Linked DNA regions of Homo sapiens: region 1 is linked to region 2. A link means that fine-mapping ties the variant in region 2 to the expression of a gene that starts in the linked region. Tissue or cell type: thyroid. Region 2 holds a variant in brackets; the other region holds the start of a gene. All regions are shown on one strand. Distances are from middle to middle.

What was found. PIP is the estimated chance that this variant, and not a neighbour inherited with it, causes the effect.
Region 1: THSD7A starts here. The variant in region 2 is fine-mapped to the expression of THSD7A in thyroid (GTEx, PIP above 0.99).

What each region holds. Positions count from the first base shown.
Region 1 is chr7:11,829,007-11,835,126 of GRCh38, reverse strand. It overlaps THSD7A (thrombospondin type 1 domain containing 7A), which reads left to right and starts at 2,929. Exons shown (of 28, transcript NM_015204.3): 1 at 2,929-3,370. The coding sequence starts at 3,181. RefSeq lists enhancers at 2,252-2,791, 2,792-3,332 and a silencer at 4,890-5,184.
Region 2 is chr7:11,480,683-11,486,802 of GRCh38, reverse strand. THSD7A (thrombospondin type 1 domain containing 7A) reads left to right here. Exons shown (of 28, transcript NM_015204.3): 7 at 4,821-5,015. Among named protein-coding and RNA genes, the nearest start is that of THSD7A, 350 kb to the left of the region's middle. The variant G/A (reference allele first, on the strand shown) is at 3,181.

The sequences.
Region 1 (6,120 bases), 350 kb before region 2:
AAACAGATGTGTATAGGTATGTTCACATCCTTACCTCTGGAGTTTAGAAATGATAGCAAAATTAATAGAGGCAGAATAAAGACACCTATCACATGAGAGGTGATAAGTTTAGAATTTTTTCATTTCTAAATATTAAAAAAATATGCTTTGCATTTGTCATTCATTGGTTTGGAGAACTTTTATCGCACTGGCTCATTAATATTTGAACAGTTCTCCATGAAAAATGACGAACGATTTACTTCATGGCAGGCTGTACAGATGGTCAATTTAATCTGCATCCTTGAGACTTCTCATGACTAAATTTTGACATCATGTCATTAAACATTTGTGTATTATTATTTATGTCATATTCTAGGAAACAAATATTGCTATGTCTTGCTATCTCTTGCCATCTATCAGTTTTATTGATAGGATTTATCTACCTAGACACTATACCTTTCACAAAGGAACACATATCAGGATATATACATCACTTTTGTCTCCTCAGAGACCCATACATTTTTGTCCTCAAGTGCAATAATGACATTGTTATGAACAAATGTGTGGCAGGTGTGGAGACAAATGTTTATATGACTTGGATTCTCTAACCTTGTTCAGAGATATCTTTGCTGATGATTGTGTGTGTTTGTGTATGTGCATGTGTGTGTGTGACTCCTAGGCCTTGTGTACGTTGAAATTGAAAGAAGGAAACCAAATGTTGGCTATTTTGAAACAGTACTGCAGAACATATCACCATAATTGTGTATTGTAAATGGCAGCAAATTGGAACCTAGAAATTGACCCCGTATAATGCTTGAATTTGTAGCTATGATGTTTACACTCTTGACAAGTTGAGTTATTATTATACCACCATGGGTAAATATAAAGGTCAGAATCTTAAAATTTCTTTTGACAATAAGCTATTAAGTATAGTGTCGGATGGCTTTTTGAAGGGCTAGGTAAATGACCTTGCACATTAACTTAATTCCTCAGACTCTCTGTCCTCTGTTATATAATGAATTCCCACTTGGTGAATTGATTGGCGCTTCCCACGAATGCGTAGAATGGCTGCTGTTAGCAGAGTATGTCCAGTTTGAAATACTTCCTGTGCCAGAGTTAGAGGATTTCAAGGTTTAGGGCACTAACAGTAGCTGAGAAATACAAGCAGAAAGGATGGGAAAATGATTCCTTGTGGAGTGGACATGGAAATTTTCCTGAAACGACAGAACCCAGGAAGCAATAGCAGGTCCCATTTCCTTCTGTGGTGTAACTGTCAAAAGAAGTGATCCTTCAGGGAACCATACATTAGTTAAGATCAGGCTTCCTTTTTATTCCTTATCAACCTATAATCTTTTGATTGTTGCCTGTTTTTCACGAGTGAAGAAATAGTAAGCCACACTAGCTTATCTCTCCTAATCACAGACTCACAGCGCTCGGGCTCTCTGAGCTTTTAATTCCTTCTTAGAGGCCTAACAGAGCGGAAAGTAAACAAAGACCAAATTTGCAACCTTCAACGTAGCTAATTTCCTCTGATGTCAGAATACTTAAACAGGCAGGACCTGGGAATTATTTGATCAAACCCGCTTTTAATCTAATGCATGCAGAGGGGCTGTGTCTGGAAGGCTTTGCAAAATGACAAGGGTCCCAAGGGAGCCTTATGGAAGGTTTCCTCTTTCAGAAAGAGTAGCTTCCTCATCTTAAACTCTAGGGTAGCTATGTTGGAGTAAATTCATAAAAAGTAGTTTTCCTGCTTTTAAAATTTTATTTTATTTGGCTGAAAATTGCTGATGGGATAGTAGTTTTCTTTGGCTTTCCGTTTGCTGAATTTTTAATGGTTAAATGCCTACTATTTTAGCTTTACTGTGAAATGAATTAATAATAAAATATATTATTATTAGCTAAAGGGAGAAGGAGAAAGGGGAAAGCATTATCCGACTTCACACACATTCTTCTATTACTACTGGTAGAAGAAAGTGAAAACACAAAGGACAAAAGATGCAAACACATGTGGTTCCTTATTTAGATTGCGACAGGCATTTTGCTACAGTAAGAGTTAAGAAAAATCGGTGTCAGGGAAATTTTAAATGAAGAATTTACTAATTCCAAGATATCCAGACAGCATTACTGACTCAGTTTGACTCACAACTATCTGAATACTTAGAAGTAGCATATTTTTGAGGGAAAGAAGTAGATGAAGGGACAGAACTCTATACCTGAAATATAATTTTAATTTTAAGGGTTTTTTTTTTGTACAATTGTATTTATGTAATTAGGTAGCATTGCAAATACTCATTAACACTAATTCAGTTTTAAAGGCTATTAAAAGACAATTTAATTTGTCACAGAGCATCAATATTGCTCATATTTTTATTGATAATAGATTAAGTTAAAAACAACATTTAAAGAAGGGTTTAAGTGCATTTTGACAAGTCAACATTTCTGCTCTCGTGTTTTCACACCTGATCTCAAATACTGCTCCCCACACAAAGTAATTCAGAAGCCATGGCTTAAAAATAGATAATAAACACTGATGCTTTGTGTAAATACGTACTAAGAATAGCATGCCACTAGATCTAGCATTTGACTCCTTGGATGACAGTGAATATCAATGCCTGTTATTTGTCATTCTGAAATCTGCCGGGTGATGATTCTTTTTATTGGTGCATCCTTCCAAACATATTTCATCGCACCATGTGCACCGGAGTTCTTTAGGCGGGTATGTCGGAGGTGGGTGTCGCCTGGCTGGCCCCTCTCCCCTTTGCTCGCCCCCTTTCTCGCCCTCGCGCTCTCGCCTCCCTCTGCCTCCAGCCCCCTCTGCTCCTTTGGGCTCACGCCCCCCTCCTCCCCCTCCAGCTGGCGGGGGCTGCGCTGCCTCCCAGACCTAGCAGACCTGCTCAGTCAGCTGGGGCCCCCTGAGGACAGTTGCCTCCGGAGCCGCCGGGACCTGCCATTCTGCGAGGAATGGCAGCGGCAGCAGCATCCCCGCCAGAGGCGGCGGCGGCGGCGGCAGCGGCCACGGCCACCACCGCGGACGCTATTGTTCCCTGGTGTTAGACGCGCTCTCCCTCCTTCTCATCTGAAGCGAACAATAGCAGGAAAGAGCTTTGCTTTCTGTACTCTTTGAAAAGACGTTCCAAGAGCGGAGAAAAATTCCCTGCCGAGCGTGCTACGGCTCTGGACCCTGGAGTGGCTGCAGGCGGCATGGGGCTGCAAGCCAGGCGCTGGGCGTCCGGGAGCCGGGGCGCTGCGGGGCCGCGCCGGGGCGTCCTGCAGCTGCTGCCGCTGCCGCTGCCGCTGCCGCTGCTCCTGCTGCTGCTGCTACGCCCGGGCGCCGGCAGGGCTGCGGCGCAGGGCGAGGCGGAGGCGCCCACCCTCTATCTGTGGAAGACTGGTAAGTGGGACGGAGTTACCCTTTCCCCATCTTCACATCTGGGGCCACATTAAGGAGCTGGTGGGCTTCTGTAGGGACCCCGGTGCTTTTGGATGGCTTGGTTATGCTGGTATCCTAAGGTAAAAAGTATGATTTCTTAGGAAGCAAATAGGTCATGTCCGATGCAATTAGGAAAGAAAAGCATAACAACTAAGAGGCAACAGTGAGTAGCTGGAATATTTCTCTCGCAGCTCTGTAATGAGGGCAACGCGCACTTCCATGATGAAGTGCATTATTTTTAACCCCTGGATTTTCATTCTACTAGGAGTTTCTCAAACAGATTTCTAGCAAAGAACAAGCAAAGAGTTTAGTCTCAGTCTTTATTCTTTAGGCAAAGCAATATGCTCACTGTCATGACATTTGTGGATATAGAGTTGAATTTGTTAACTTTAGCTTTGTGATATGTGGGACACCTCAGAAACAAGCCAAGTGAGGGCGGTTCCAACAATTAAAGGCAAATGGGGCTCCAGTGAGCCTTCAGGGAAAGACTGAAAACTCAATTATTAACTAGCGAGTCGGAGGATTTTTAAAGTGTACAACTTTTAGGATGTCTGGGTTCAAACTTTCTCTTCCTTCCTTGAGAATTGTTTTGCTTTGTTTTTCAACCACCCAACAAAAGCAGCTACTAACTGCCCATCATTACCCATTGGCAAAATGCTTGGAGTTTCTGGCGGGGGCCGTGACAGGCAGGAAAACAATACGGAGTGAGGAATTACCAACCCCTTTTCTGCGGGTTCGCTTTCTCTCTGCATTAAAAAAACATTGAGAATTCCTTAGGGGACCTGAAACTTCACATGTTCATAGGAATAAAATGGGAAAAGATTATTCCTGTTGCTTAGAGCTAGGGGGTAATTTAAGAATAACTTGGTCATGCCAAACATTAAGAGAATGTTGTAGTTGAAAGGGAAAGTATGTATTCGTCATGGGGTTGCAAACAGGTTTCAGGGAGTGAGTGTCTTTTCCTGCTTCAGCCCATCTCTGCACCACTACTGAAGAGACAGCTCAGTCTACTCTACAATTGCATCACTATCGATATCTGGAATTTTTAAAGAAGTTGCAGCTATCCAGAAATTTAGTGAGGAGATTAAACAGAAATTTATTTAAAGTCAAAGTACACAATTTGTCTTAGAAGATTACATGAAACATATACACATTTTAAAAAGCAAGATTATTCTTGCTAACACCTTAAGTTTGAAGATCAGTTGAGTAATGAATTCAAATGAAATAAAATTAATTTACTTCAATTTGAAACGAAGATTTGAAGATCTCTAATTTAGCGTAAGCTAGGGTTTTACTTGTTAAAAGCACATTCATAATGACAAACATTAATCAAATTATAATTTACCATTAAATGGTATCATATGGATGCTTGGGGAGAGCTTCTTAGGTAAGTCAGTGTAGGATGAAATAGTAGTTGCCTAGTTGAAATTTATACTAGCAAAGTAACAAGAGCCAAGCAATAATTCAGATGGAAAAGAGCCCAGCCAACATTCACTGTACAGCATCTGAGGTGTCAATATATGTCATCATAAATGTCATGGTAGGAACACAAGCCAATAAACAGTTTAAAATAGTGGGAAGCTCTCAGAAACAATGATATGGAGACCTTGATTCCAGTGCCAGTCCTAGCTCTTGCTAGCTGTAGGAATTTTGGCAGTTCACTTAAATTTTGACCCTTAGTTTTCTCAACTGCATGTAAATGTGATGACACCTTCTTCTGCCTATCTGCAGTGTGTGAAAATCACATGAGTTATGAGAAAGTGATTGGTAAACTTCAAAGCTGTATGCAAATGTAAGCTAGTGTGATGAGGATGTTAAAGATATTTCTTGACTGGTGATCCTTGGTTTGGTAAAAAAAAAAAATAGTTCATTCAATTGGAAAGCAAAATAATGACTTCTTTATTTTTTTTTTTTTACCAAAGGGAAAGGAGACTTTAATATATCTGTAAAGGAGTTGAACGTAGTTCTCAAAAGAACTAGAGAATATTTAAAGAAAAAAGATATACCATAAATGAAAATTTAGAAGTTACAGAATCACTATGTGTGTATCACTTGATGAAAATAAAGAGGCAAGAAGGGAATTGGAAGAGAAAAGAGGTGACATACTCCAAAATATCTGTTCCAATGGGGTAAGCTTGGTCTTGGTACAGAGGATTATAGAGAATCATATTAATGGTGAGATTATTGAATTAAAATGATGTAGTGAAAGTTGTTACACTGGATGAAGATCTGGGACAGGAACTCAAACTGTGTATGTTACTAACATGCTGTAGAACTTTGGTAAAGTCATTAATGACTTTGGTTCTTGGCTTCCTATTTTGTAATACTCATTAAATAGATAAAATGATATCTAAGGGCCTTTTTAACCCCTAAAGGGCTTCATATATATGAATGCATATGTCAGATACATATATTATAAATACACACATAAATACATATATACAACAAATAAGGGTATATAAAGTTGACCCTTGAACAATGCACAGATTAGGGGTCCTGACCTACATGCACAGTGGAAAATTTATGTATAACTTTTGACTTCCCCAAAACTTAACTACTAATAGCCAACTATTGATCAGAAGCCTTACAGATAACATGAACAGTCAATTAATACATATTTTATATATGTATTATATACTATATTGTTACAATAAAGTAAGCTAGAGACAAGGAAATGACATTTGGAAAATCACGAGGAAGAGACAATATAT
Region 2 (6,120 bases):
CTTTGTGGGTGAGAAAAACAAAGTTATATAAATGCAAAGCAATCCTTTGAAACCATTTATGTTTGTAAATGTATGCCAAAAAAGATAGTATATTTAATATGAATACACGAAGAGAAGCATAAGGAGGATTCTAAATGTTTGTGACATCACAGTCAAAATCTAGCTAAGAAATTGTCCTCAGAGAGACTAAAGAAGAAAAACAAGTTGCGTTGGTTCATACCTACACCAGTGATAGAACTACACAAATCACAGTAGTGATAATCAGATGTGTCTGTCCAGATTTAATGGGATGCACACTTGGATAATCAAAGTCTCAAATAGTTCTATAGTGGGGACATCTGGTGGATGAATATGTCCTAACTGTGGGGCTGCTGATATGAAAAAGTGGAATTCCCATAGTGCTAGGCAGCAAAACTTCCATTTCTCCAAATAGAGGAGTATAAATTAACCTGATATTTAGATATGTGCGTGTTTAATGTACTCCTATATATACTCTGAAGTAATGTTATGCAAAACAGTTCTTATCCAATCAAAATAAAGTGTATCAATCCAAAACAAAATTTAATGTGAGGAAGAGGGATGAAATTATTTTCTGCTACTCTTGTAAGACCTTAAGAGTAGAGTAAGTTCTTATAAGTAAGATTCAATTAACCTTATAAGTAAGATAAAATTAATAGCCTCAAAAAGTGGCTGGAATTGACAAGTTATGAAGTTGCCTGTAATAGCCATTGACCCAACTTTTTATTTGATTTTATTTGCCTATGGTTTCCCAGATGACTTATGCCTGGAATGCTGAAGATTTAGCTTAAAAAGAAGACAGCTCCTAAGGGTTCCAATTAGCTGAGTTGATTAAAGCATTCATTGAAAGCAAAATCAAAAATTTAATTATTCCATATTCTCATAGATCAGTTGCTGTTTGTTCAATGGCTATGAGCCAAAACATGTCCCACTGGACTCATCAACAATGCATGTCTTTGTATTTGAAGCACTGTGTGGCTGGCAACATGCATCACTGTGTTGACAAACAACTTGAGAGTGCCTGTTTCTTGACTTCTTTGGAGGCAAAGCCTTATCTATTATTTACTGCCTTGGCATCCTCAGTTCTCCACCAAGAAGAACCCCAATCTAGTTCAAAAGCAGATTGGGGTATTGGTGAAAACTCATTTCAATTCTCTGTTCCTTTAGTCAAACTTTTGCTATTTGAGAAAGATAACTTAACCTTTTTGAGTCTCAATTTCTTTTAAAGTAAAAAATAGATAGTAATACTGATGTCAAAAGGTTATTGTGAGAATTAGCTGAGGTGATGTATACAACATTCATACATTCTTAGCATAGTGCCTGACAGAAGATGGGCATTCAGCAACTATTCATTGAATAAATGTTTTCAGCCATGGATACTCTGTGTGAAGAGAAGTATAAGGAGAATCTCCACAGAGAAGCAAATGCTATTAGGTATGAAGTCCAGATGAATTTGTTTTACATACCTGCCTGTCAAGAGACAATCTGGTTCTAATCAAACCAGAAGACAATAAATGGAGAAAAATTCTAGAGCATTGTTTCTTAGATTTGATATGCATAGAAATTACCTGGGGATCTTTTAAGAATGAAGGTTGAGTCTGGGTGCGGTGGCTCATGCCTGTAATCCCAGCACTTTGGGAGGCTGAGGCAGGCAGATCATGAGGTCAGGAGTTCGAGACCAGCCTGGCCAGTATGGTGAAACCCCTTCTCTGCTAAAAATACAAAAATGAGCCGGGCATGGTGGTGCATGCCTGTAGTCCCAGCTACATGGGAGGCTGAGGCAGGAGAATCGCTTGACCCTGGGAGGTGGAGGTTGCAGTAAGCCAAGATCTCACCACTGCGTTGCAGCCTGGGCAACAGAGTGAGACTCCGTCTCCACAAAAAAAAAAAAAAAAAAAAAAAAAAAAAAATTAAGGTTGTGATTCAGTGGGTTGAGTCTGAGAGGCTGCATTTCCAGCAAACTCCAGGGGATGCATGTGCTGCTATCCACTAAATACACTTTCGGGAGGCCCTAGAGCACTCGAATGCATGACAAGAAATACTGTGCTTAGATCTCTATTTGTCTAGACCAACATTCTATTTCCTAGCACAACTTAAAATTTATGTATTTATTTAACAAAAAATGATTTAGTGCTTCCTACGTGTCGGGCACTATTCTAGGTTCTAAGTATGAAGTAGCAACCAAGACAGATACGGATAACACCCTCATTTAGTCTAGTGATAGTCAGACAATAAACATATTAACCAATTAATTAAAATAGTTTCTAGTGGTGATTAAAAGTATAATGAAAATAAACTGAAGTGACTGGGAGAGTGTGTATGGTCAATGAAATCTCCTCTAGGAAGGAGAAAATTGAACTGAAACCTGAATGTTGAAAAACAGGATTCTGTGTAAGACCTGAAATTTTCATACAAAGTGAAGAGAAAGTGCAAAACTGCTGAGACAACAATGGGCTTCGTTTGCAGGAGGAAAGGGAAAAAAGTCATTATGGCCAGAACATAAAGCTTCAACCTAAATGTGAGACAGTGATCAGAACAGTAAAAAGGGACAAGATCATACCTGGAAGGGTTGGGGATGGTACAGAAATCATTCTAAAACCATCAGGGAAATCTCAGATGTTGGATCTTAGATGGGTCTTAATAGCTCCACAGAGGATTAAGGGTGGTAGAAGGAGTGATCCTACAGGAAAGTACACCTGGCCAAGCAGAACAAGATGATTGAAAAAGAGCTAAAATAAGATATGGGACACAAACTGGGCGGATGGGGGGCAGGGGGAGTGCGGAAAAAAGCATAACTTAGAAGAAAGGTCAAAATTGCACATTTCTTTGGTTTACATGACAACAAACAAAAATGCATTACTTACGCTAGGCAAGCTAATCTAATGGCACCCTTGTAGCAAAGTCTGCATTGCCACAGAATAAATATTTTTCTGAATAGAAAAGATTAGGTAACTATTAGAGGATAAATAAAAATATGACGTTTGTTAGCTATAGACTTTAGCCCCAAACTTTTCTTGCTTTCCACAGAATATTGGAAACAAAAGTGAGAGAAGGTAGATGGTACAATAAAAGACAGCAGTGAAGAAAATAAGATATAAGAGAGCACCCCTTGCACTAAGAAAAAGCCTAGTAGAAAAAAGAGTCATCATTATTATGTCAAGT[G/A]TAAAATATTAAATGCCTTATACAATAATGATTTTCATACTCTACCTATGTACCTATATATCTACTATCTGTTTAGTACATTTTTTTAATTGGGATACATGCCAAAACCCAACACCAATAAAAACAAAATTTGAGAGCTCCCACAGATTAGAGTAGCTAAATAAGAATGAATAATAAAATATTTACTCAATTGCAATTTTAATGAGCCTTCTTTACTTACTAGTGAGTAAGTCTAATGATTTAAGGCCTTGCAATGTAATGGCTATTAACACGTAGGTGCATTCCAATTGACTTCTGATTTTTGTCTCATGATTAAAGGCTCTGCAAGCTAGTAGCTATTAACATATTAGAGCATTTGCAATTTACTCTGATTTTCTGTCTTGTTTTTAAAGCATATGAATAAAGGAGTGTACATTAAAATGATGCTCCTAACTCCCCAAGTGAGAAACAGCTTGGACTATTTTGTTCAGTAGCCTCTGTAAGGAATGGCAAGGTGAGTCACCCTTTCTCACCTGAATGCCTAATGCGAGGCACACACTTTTTATATATTCACCCAGAATTATGATTATATTCTGTGCCAAAATAGCAGGTTAATTTTTGTTTGATTGTGTATGATTTCATTCTGTTCTGTTCCCTTGACCTCGTTAACCACCTATATTAATCAACTAAACCATAGAGTTCAGACTTTTTCTCCTACCCTGTTTTGGTTATTCTGTTGGTTGTTTTTGGCATTTATTAACAGCAACAATGTTTTGTTTCTCATTGGCCTTTTATATATCTCATTTCACGCATTCAGCAAATATTAAATAAGTGTCCATTTTTGGGCCAATCTCTAGAGTGTCAAGGGCAAAATGAGGGAGTGAAGTGAGATGAGGCTAGGAAGAGAAACACAGCGAGGTCATTTGAGGTCGAGGTCTTGTAAACTTGAAAAATCTGCCCTTTATCTTAAGAGCAACAGGGAACTAATGAAAAATATTAAGCACTGGAGTGACATCACATTACTTCTGCCATTTGTTTGTTTTCTATTGTTTCCCTCCCTCTCCAACTGGGATCACCTTAAGCAGTGACTTTATAATGTTATCCCATCATTTACATTTCCTGTCTATTTCCAACTAACAAACAATTTTTTACGAAAGAAGAAGGTTGCCAATTGTATGAAAATAACTACTCTGAGAGACACAAGAGAGTTTGTAAATAGACACCTATTAGTTGGTTCATGAAAACATATGATAGATGCTATGGATAGAGTCATTATTTGTAAATCATAGCTCATCTCCAAAAAAGAAAGAGGGGACATGCTTTGTTGATGCTCCTTATTACAACTTAAGAGTACAAGTATAAAAATTAGTACTTAATGGGCAGGTGTCTGTGGCATAAGAATCGTCTCAGCAATGTGCTTGATATACCCTGATAATGAAAGAAGCCTCATTTAGGGTCATGAGTGTATATGTGTGTATATATGCTTGTTCCTGGTGTTCTATTAACATCTGGCTATAGTAGGCAATCCCTCTTTTGGCTACGTTTTTTTAAGTAAGAGCAAAAGAAAGATAATGTAACTTATCTGGGTGCCCATCTGGTTTAAATTGCTCATTTTACATTAATTTAACAATAATAGCTGTTGGTGGTCATGTTTTCCCCAGGAGAAGAAGTTGACAGACAGCTGTGCAGAGATGCCATCTTCCCCATCCCTGTGGCCTGTGATGCCCCATGCCCGAAAGACTGTGTGCTCAGCACATGGTCTACGTGGTCCTCCTGCTCACACACCTGCTCAGGGAAAACGACAGAAGGGAAACAGATACGAGCACGATCCATTCTGGCCTATGCGGGTGAAGAAGGTGAGTCGCCAGCTTCAGACGCCATCTAGGTTCGTTTCAAAAGTTAGTGTGCATCTTTTTTGTGTAGCCTGGAAAAGATGATATTCTATGAAAGTCAACAACCAGAAATTCAGCCATCCAAGATTTAATATCTGTTGATGTGTTGAGCAATTTGATTCTGTCCCCCAAAATTAATCTTGAAAATGGATCTCTAACAAAGGAGAAAGACTTTTTAAAAGTGAACTCATTTTGCTTTTTCCCACCCTTCCAGTCATTAGAGTTCTTTGTAAACCAAAGTGTTAGGCCTTTAAGAAGGTCTGAAAATGGCTCCCAAAATTTCAGATGTTTCATTGTTTTTTTCTGAATTTCAGAAGTCAGTTTTATCTTTTGAAAATCATATTCTACCTTCTCATAAATAAGTATATATATCCAATCATAAAGTTTATTTAAAATCACAAGAATAGCTACTGTTCGACCAAAAATTGCAATTTTCAGTTTCTTTGAGTTTCTTGAACATAGGCTCCGAGGTCCAGAAATCTCATATGTAAATTTTGTTCATTTTTAAAATATGTTGCTCCTAAATCTCTTCACCCTATAGGGTGAATAAAGCATGTTTGTCACATATTCAGACCTCACTTGCAAGCTTTATTGCCAAGAAATACAAGGCTCTTGGTAATTGTCTCTCAAGATGATATCCAAATGCTAATTTGGCTTCTGTGTGACTGGGTAATATAATGTCATACTTAATCTTGTCTTTCTGAAAAATAACACAAGAGTGAGAAAAGCATAAAAGTAAATCAAGTTTGTTCATATTAAGGCATGTTCTTTCTCAAGAATATAAGTGTATGTTATTTAAACATTATCAAGCTAAATGACTCTTTGTTCACATTTAGCACTGATAAATAATTATTTCTATTTGTAATAAGCATAACATTTTATGTTTTCCCCAAATTATCGATTTGGGGGGAGTTTTGTGTTGCCTATACTTTTTCTATTTTTCTGTTCATGAAGTATTTTAGTGATAGAAACATAGTGTTCCTAGTCAAATTTGCTATCTGTGTGTGTAACAACTGTGCACACCTATAATTACCTTGGCCTTTGCACATGAGTGTTACATGCGTAAAAC